2 linked regions of the Homo sapiens genome follow. Changing the gene in region 1 together with any one later gene gives a genetic interaction. Each region holds a gene or a part of one and is shown on either strand. Other genes may lie near its edges.

Region 1 (4,038 bases):
GACAGCCTGGCAGCTCCCGGCGACTCCGAGCGCCGCCGCCCGCCCCGCCAGGCGCACGCTCAGCGGCCGTCACGCGGGCCTCACCCGCTGCGCACGGCCAATGGCGTGCGCCGCTCGGCCCGAGCCCCGCCCCCGCCTCCCCCGCCCCGCCTCCCGCCCTCCGCCCCGAGCCCCACCCCCCGAAGGCCGCGCCCCACCGCACCTCCGCGCACGGCCAATGGCGTGAGCCCCTGACAGAGTCCCGCCCCCTCCAAACGCACAGCCAATGGCGTGTGCCGCGCTTTCCGAGCCCCGCCCCCCGACCCACACCTGGCCTCTCCGCACCGCCCACACCTGGCGCTCGGCTGGCGGGGCAGTGCGGCGTGGGGACCGTCCCACCGCCGCCACCTCCGGGAACCTCCACGGGGCGCTGTCCCAACCAGGGGAGTTTTTTTTCTTATTTTTTGGCACAATAATCTACAGTTGTCCCCTGTCCAACCAAGGGAGTTTTAAGCCACGACCGAGCTGCCAGGCGGCAGACCTGAGCCCGGGGAGCCCGCGCCGACCACTCGGGGACACCGGAAGCCAGTGCAGAAACGTTTAATAGAAATAAAAAGGTCTGCATAGAGCCGAGGCTCGGAGCCACCCCTCTGCCGCACATCCAGTACAGAGAGGATTCTATAAAGTTCACACTTTTTCATTAAGTAGTAGTAGAAATACGGTGAGGCCCTGAGACTGGCCTGGTGAGCGAGGAAAGGCCGCTGGGCGCTTCCACTCTGCAGGCCGGGGCTGAAATAACCCGAGTTCCGTTCTCACAGAAAGGTGCGGCTGCCACCTCTTGACACAGAGGCCGGATGGGCAGGTGTCCTCGATGGCCAGGCCGTATCAGGGTACAACCGCAGCAGTGCAAGGGGCTTCCTCAAGGACAAATGGCTAAAAATGTCACGGTGAAAATGTCATCCCCAAAGAGTTCGTTCTCCCTAGACCCGTGGGGGCAACCCAGCCTTCACCGTGACACTGGCCATCTGCAAAGTGCCAACTGTTCTTCATCGAGCACGTGATTACGTCACTTTCTTCCTTTTTGTGCGTTTTGTGCAGCCCCTGCCAAACCAGCCCCCTAGGATGGGGGCCGAGCTAAGCGGTGCACCCCGGTCCCCAGGCGGGGCCTCCTCTCTGCTTCTGCACAGCGACTTCCGACTGTGGCTGCCTTCTTCACCAGCACGCAGGGGAGTCGCCAGTGAGAAAATGGGATCCTGCCACCTGCCAAAAAGGGAAAGCGGCATCAGGCGGGCCTGGGAGCCTCTCGCAGTCACACCTGCCCCAGCTCGGGAAAGCTGTCTGCGGTCCCTGCCTTCCCATCCCCTTCCCTCCCGTGTCAACTGCGGCGGGGCTCTGGTTGGCGGCAGCTTCATTGTTACCAAGCTGCAGAACGGATGTGGGAGAGGTCACCTCTTAGGTGGTGACTCAAAGGTCGGCACCCACACTAGCTCGGTCTCCTCAAAACTCCGTGTCCTTGTCCACCACTGAGCGGCGTGCACACACAGGGTGGGGCAGCAGTGGCCCCAGGGCTGCCTCCGTCTCCAGGGATGAGTCACTAGCAACTCTGGGCCCCACCTTCCACTTGTACCGCTGGGGCAGGTGGACCAGACCCTCTCCCCCTTCCCAGCTGACTAGGGAGGCGTGGCCTACAGACGACCCCGTGAAGAAAGCATGTGTCTGACGGAGATGCAGAACCACAGATCATAACTTAAGATACAGATACGCACTGATAAGGAAAATGAGCTAAGTTAATGTAAAAAAAAAATACAGTACACGATAGCCCACATCACAGAACACCACACACATAACATACAAGAAGTGCCAGGCCCAGAAGGTGAAGGGATCCTTAATTTCTTGAACCCTTTGATTAAAAGAAGTTATTGATTTCCCCTATAAGACCCTGAAAATTCACAGAGAAAGAGAGTGTAAACTTTTTACTCAATACATACACCAAGTCTAAATTATCACAAATTCTGTATTAAGGCACAGTTTGTTTAAGCTTTCCCAAAGTACGCCAACTCCCAAAACCAAGCACACAGATTCTGTCTGACCAGAGCTGCCGAGTGCTCGTCCCCTCCAGATGCTTCCCACCAGGCATCTCGGAGAGCTCCACGGGGAGGCCTGGAGCAGGAGCACGCGGGCAGAATCCCTCTCCCCGCGGGGATTGTGTGTGCCACATCAGCCAGGGCAGGAGTGGCACACGCAGGGTCTCCGCCAACCACCGAGGTCAGGCCCTCTGGAGACCACCACGCTTCAGTCATGCCTCAGGCACCACTGCAAACACCTCAGAGCTTCCTCCACACTCAGCTCACGAGAGAAGACAGACAAGGCCCAGCACACAGAGGTGCGGGGAAGCAGGCTGCTGCAGCGGCTCACTCACCTGCTATAGGCGGGGATCTCCAAGCCCAGCTCGGCCATGAGGAGCCGCATGACGTCATCACACTTCCCATGTAGCTTCAGGGCAGCCCAGTCATCCTTCGGGGTCCACTGAGGACAGGGAAAGCCGAGTGAGAGTAACAGCAGCCCAACCCTTCCCGGTGGCCTGTCAGCCTTGGCCCCTACGGGCTCAGTCGGTGCTCCCTGAGCACCCACGGGGGCCCTATCAGACCGCCCTGGTGCATGGGTGTGGGGTGTCTCTGGCTGTGCGTTCTAAGACCCAGATCTAAGGACGTGGCTCTCAGCACCCGAGTTACCTGCAGGTTCACGATGTAAAGCTTCGGCCGCCGGCTAGGGGGCTTGGTCATGCACCAGAGGCGTGGGTACTTCTTTAGAACCTGTGGAAGCAGACAGACAGACACCGCACACACACAAGGGACAAGTCTGTACAGTGCTGGGCCGCAGAGCTGGACACCCTCGGGCGGGCAGGGGCTCGGTTCACTCATTGTGTCATCGGCACGTACCTTCAGGCTGGACCCTAGACACAGGATGGTGTCTGCTCTGCTGGCAGCCTCGGTCGCCGCTTCCCAGTTCAAAGGCTGCCCCAACGTCCCCCTCTCCCCAAAGTGCACAATGGTGTCCCGCAGCTGGGTCCCACACTTGTGGCAGGTCCGGCCTGTCTGGTGTCTGTGGAGGGCAGTGCGCTCCGTCACATCGAACACCCGCACGTACTCCCTGTTGGGAACGCAGGAGGTACAGACCTAGAGGCAAGAGGGCACAGTGAGTGGGACCCGCCTGCCCATGGAGACCCTGGGTCCCTGCAGGACTGCTCACTTCAATGTACATGTTCCCGTGGAGCTCGGAGATGGCCGTGCGCGGCAGCCCACTCCTCAGGTGGAGCCCGTCACAGTTCTGAGACACCACATGCTGCACCTGGAAGGCAGAACGGGTGGCAAGGGGAGGGATGGCTGCCAGTGGTGGTGGGGAGGTCAGTACCCGGCCACAGCGAGGCTGTTCTGAGCCCCGCCGATGGCTCCCAAAACCAGGGGCAGCTCCGTCCCCCCAGAGAGCCTTAGAAAGTAAAACACACAACAGGTCCAACCACCAGGAGTCAAGAGGGCCTGTGGTGGGGAGGGGCTGTCCTTCCTCCAGCCCTGATGCACCTGGAGTGGCTGGGAGGGCAAGAGGTTGCACCGTCCCGGCAAGGTTGGGAAGTGGCTCGGGGTTTGGCAAGGGCCACTCTGCCCCAGATCCATGCTCTCTTGGGTCATGACATTTCAGGTCCCTGGGGACCTAGGCAGATCAACCACTACACCCCATTGGTTGAGGGTGTTCAGCAGAAGGTCCCCAGAGATGTCCTATAAGCCTCCCCTGTGACTAGGATGGCTTCTGAGGTCCACAGAAAAATGCAAGGGAATCACAAAGGGGAAAGGCCACCAGCAGCTCTGAGGCTGAGGCTGGCTGCGGATGGGATGGTTCAGAGGGGGAGCTCCCCTTCTGTCCTGGAGAGTCAAGCACAGGAGGATCAAACCCGCGGCCTAACCCGCTTGGTGGGTGCTCATCATGGGAGTCAACTGGCAGACAGAGGGCGGGTGCAGTTAGTTGCCCACTGGGCACCAAGGTGCTCTGCCTGGTCCCTGGCAA
Region 2 (3,800 bases), on another chromosome or scaffold:
TGTTTTTACAGCTTTCAGCTCCTTTTTAAGTGCATATTTGTGGGTTCCAAAATGTTTCCATATGTCTTCAAGGCCTGATTTTGGTTATGAGCCTCTTGTCTATTTTCATGTACTGAGGGGAAAAGATGCAACTATTTAAGAGTTAAAATAGGAATATGTAAGTTGACATAAAATCCAAAAAGAGATTCATTTATAACTAGAAAATTTTGTTTTAGTTATTTAGTTTTAATTACACTTTAAAAAAATACATAGAAAAAAAGCATCCTTTTAAATATCTTATTTTCAAAGTTAGTATCTACAAAGATGTATTAAAAGAAAGCCTCTCATTTTAATTGGTATTGTTCTCATTAGTGTGTCCTGTGACCTAGGAATGATTGTTTTAACACCTATCTCCTGAATATTTGTCTTCTTTCAAAATCCCAGTTCCTTTTCCTATCAATGGATCTGGCAGCAGATACTGGGAAATGTTACACTCACTACCATAACTACCTAAGACAACCCAATAGTAGTTAGTGAACATTTATCTCTTTCCTAATGTGCTTTCCATCTACTATCCTTGGATTATTTTTTTTGTCTAGTCTCAGAGTAGTTTTGAATAGAATTCCACTTACCCTAACATGATATCACTCTGTATAACTTGGAAAATGACATAAGTGTTCTTTATTAAAATTCTGATTTCCAGTAATGGAAACTTTTGTTTGAAATTGTTTTAAGATTTGCAAATAAGGAAAGTTTAAAAATGGTAGAATCAAAGGTTATTCCTTAAATAAGGGTGATGATGTTTACATATGCTAGGTTTATAAAACTTTTCCCTATATCTAACACTCCCAAATAGCTCCTCTTTGTAGTTCTGCTAAAGTATTTTCTAACTGTAGCCATTTGTGTTGAATGTGGTCAAGCAATGTTTCACTTCTTAGTCTTCCTGCATGAAAGATCATAGAAAGGGTAAAAATGACCTTCATTTTACATCATACATTTAATCCACAAATGTTTGTAGATAAATAACCTTGATTGAATTATATTTTAAATGCATAAACAAACCTGCCAACTGAAGAAATTATACATTCTTTTATATAACGAAAAGACTTCTTGCAGTGTAAACAATTGTTTATTTCATTTACACAAGGTGAAAAAAGTACTTACTCATTTCTGCCAGTTTCTGCTGAAATTTGGACTCTCCTGGGAGATGTTTACTGCAGATTAAAAAAATGCAAAACATTTCATGTGTATTTATAAATGGAAAACTCAAATTTCCAGTAACTATGATGCTTTCGATGACTTACTTTATGCTATTATTTTAGTGAGTAGCTTTTAATTTTAAAATTTAAAAACTAACCATCTAAAACATAAATGTCACAAATTTATGATGCTATGTATTTTTTCAGTGGTTCTCACAAAATACAGTGGTTAATATTTTTCAAGAGTAAACATTTTTAAATTTAATGTTAAGAATAACAAAATTTTATCAATAGCTTTGTAAAAAAGATCAGGGTTTATTAGATATCTTCACTGAATGTTGGTATGCAATTTGTAAGATGTTTTTAACTTTGCACTACACTCATATCTATTATTTTGAGCCATTCTCACAACTTCCAAATAAACTTGGCATGAAAGAAATTGGTATAAGCCAGGAGCAGTGCTGAGACTCTGGATTCCCCAGATGACCATCTCGGCTACTGGAAAACATTCAAAACTGGTTCCTACCTTCCATCTGCTTCATCTGATCCTTCAATATCAAAGCGTAGTTTTTTCAGTGGTTTAGGAGGGTTGCTTCCTTCAGCACTTCTTTTGAGCACACGGTCGCTGTTACATACCATCTGATTTATTTTCTGGAACTTCTCAGAAGTCTACAAATTACAGAATTCTTTACTTTAAATCATTAAATGCCAGTGTTTCATAGTTAGCAACCTCAAGTTATAGTTTGAGGTGTGTCAAAAATCAGGCAAAGGTAATAACTTCATTTAAATTTTCTGCTTCATTGGACCAAATAAAAGATATGAAAAATCTAAAAATCAGAATAACTACCTAATTCCATCCCCAATTAAACACCCACTCTTTGTAAATCCTCCTGTCTTTTCCCATGCAGCTCACATTCTTCCTCCAGCAACTGCCTACTCTGCAAGTCCTGGTTCCTCATTTTCAGAACCCACCATACAGGACTACTTTTCAGAAGTAGGCAAGTCAGAACAGCTTTCTGGAAACTTGCTTTTGTCCTTTTTTTGTTTTTTAGGCTATTATACAACCAGAAGGAAGGTCACAAGAATTTGATAAGAGATGATGTGTTCAATGAATAATAATTTTTGATTCACTTTATGGGTATTATGTTGACAAGTCATATAGACTTTCTGATAGAAATTATATCTGATTTGACGGATAGATTCAACAGTGAGGATTAGCTTTGCCAATTATACTTTATTTTCCAAAAATTAAACTAGCGAATTCTCCCAATATTAAATTCAAAACAGGTTTTGATGGTAAATCTATTTGGAGCACATATACAATTTAACAAAAACTAAATCCCGTGCTGCTATTAAATGTATAATATTTTAAATTATCAGCTTTAAGATATGGAAGTACATTCAACTTTTTCCCAATTATTTTAGAGGTTATGGCAAGCAAAAATGTTTGAAGACCACTATGTGATACCTAGCCAGTTCCAACTGTCCTTATAAGGTCCCATAGCTCCTTTGTAAAGTCTGACAGCTGAGCCCATCGTGAACTATTTGTAACACACATTTTAATATTTGGTCATCTGGCATATAAACTTTTACCTCTCCCTAGTTACTTGAGGCAGTGTGGTGGGCAGCCTCTCAGATGGCTCCCAATGACCCCACCTCCTGGTATTCACCTCCTTGTGTGATCCTCCTCCCCTCGTGTGTGGGCTAGATCTACTGTTGTCTTGCTTCTAACCAAAATAATATGCCAAAAGTAATGGGCTGTCATTTCCAGAATTAGATTACAATAAGACTGTGACCTCTCTCTTGCTCTTTATTTCCCTGCCTCCCTCAGAGTCCCTGCTCTGGGCAAAGCAAGCTGCCATGTTGTGAATAGCAAGCAGTACTATGGAGGGGCCCAAGGGCAAGAAACCAATAGAGGGGCCAATAGCCATCGAGGATCAGCCAACAGCCATTTGAATAAGTCTGCCAGTGAATGCTCCTCTAGTGGAGCCTTGAGATGACTGCAGGCCCAGCCCAACTGACACCTTGATCACAGACTTTGGAGAAACTCTGGCCCAGCTAAGTCATGCCTAGATTATTGACCCACAGAAATGGAGATAATAAGCGTTTGTTTTAAGTCACTAAGTTTGGGGGTAATGTATTATGTAGCAACACATAACATAGGCAGTCTTCCCATTCCTATAAGAATATAAGCTCTCTGGCCAGGTGCAGTGGCTCACATCTGTAATCCCAGTTCTTTGGGAGGCTGAGACGGGGTATCGTGGAAGCCAGGAGTTCAATACCAATCTGGCCAACATAGAAAACCCTGTCTCTACAAAAAATTTAAAAATTAGCTGGACATGGTGGTGCATGCCTGTAGTCCTGGCAACTTGGGAGGCTAAGGTGAGAGGACTGCTTGGGCCGAGGAGTTTGAGGTTATAATAAGTAGGTGACAGAGTGAGACACTGTCTCTAAAAATAAAAATTTAAAAATTAAAAATATAAGCTCTCAGGGGAATGGAGATGGTGCAACATATTAACAGTAATGCATATTGAATATGGGACTGCTGAATTAGTGACTTTAATGGAAGGCCAACTAGGGTTGTGGATTTGCAGCCTAGAATAAATGTTTCAAAGCAAAGCT

The links. A genetic interaction does not mean that the proteins touch.
Region 2: changes in SIRT7 (region 1) and RB1 together harm fitness more than expected from each alone (negative genetic interaction), as found in Homo sapiens cells (one large-scale study listed by BioGRID).

What each region holds. Positions count from the first base shown.
Region 1 is NC_000017.11:81,911,376-81,915,413, forward strand, and holds the end of SIRT7 (NAD-dependent protein deacetylase sirtuin-7), read right to left. Parts: intron 3,328-4,038; coding exon 3,229-3,327; intron 3,156-3,228; coding exon 2,919-3,155; intron 2,793-2,918; coding exon 2,712-2,792; intron 2,506-2,711; coding exon 2,399-2,505; intron 1,240-2,398; coding exon 1,041-1,239; 3' UTR 564-1,040; downstream 1-563. UniProt on the Homo sapiens protein: NAD-dependent protein-lysine deacylase that can act both as a deacetylase or deacylase (desuccinylase, depropionylase, deglutarylase and dedecanoylase), depending on the context. Specifically mediates deacetylation of histone H3 at 'Lys-18' (H3K18Ac).
Region 2 is NC_000013.11:48,474,748-48,478,547, reverse strand, and holds part of RB1 (retinoblastoma-associated protein), read right to left. Parts: intron 2,099-3,800; exon of another isoform or gene 2,026-2,098; intron 1,848-2,025; coding exon 1,705-1,847; intron 1,194-1,704; coding exon 1,144-1,193; intron 1-1,143. UniProt on the Homo sapiens protein: Tumor suppressor that is a key regulator of the G1/S transition of the cell cycle. The hypophosphorylated form binds transcription regulators of the E2F family, preventing transcription of E2F-responsive genes.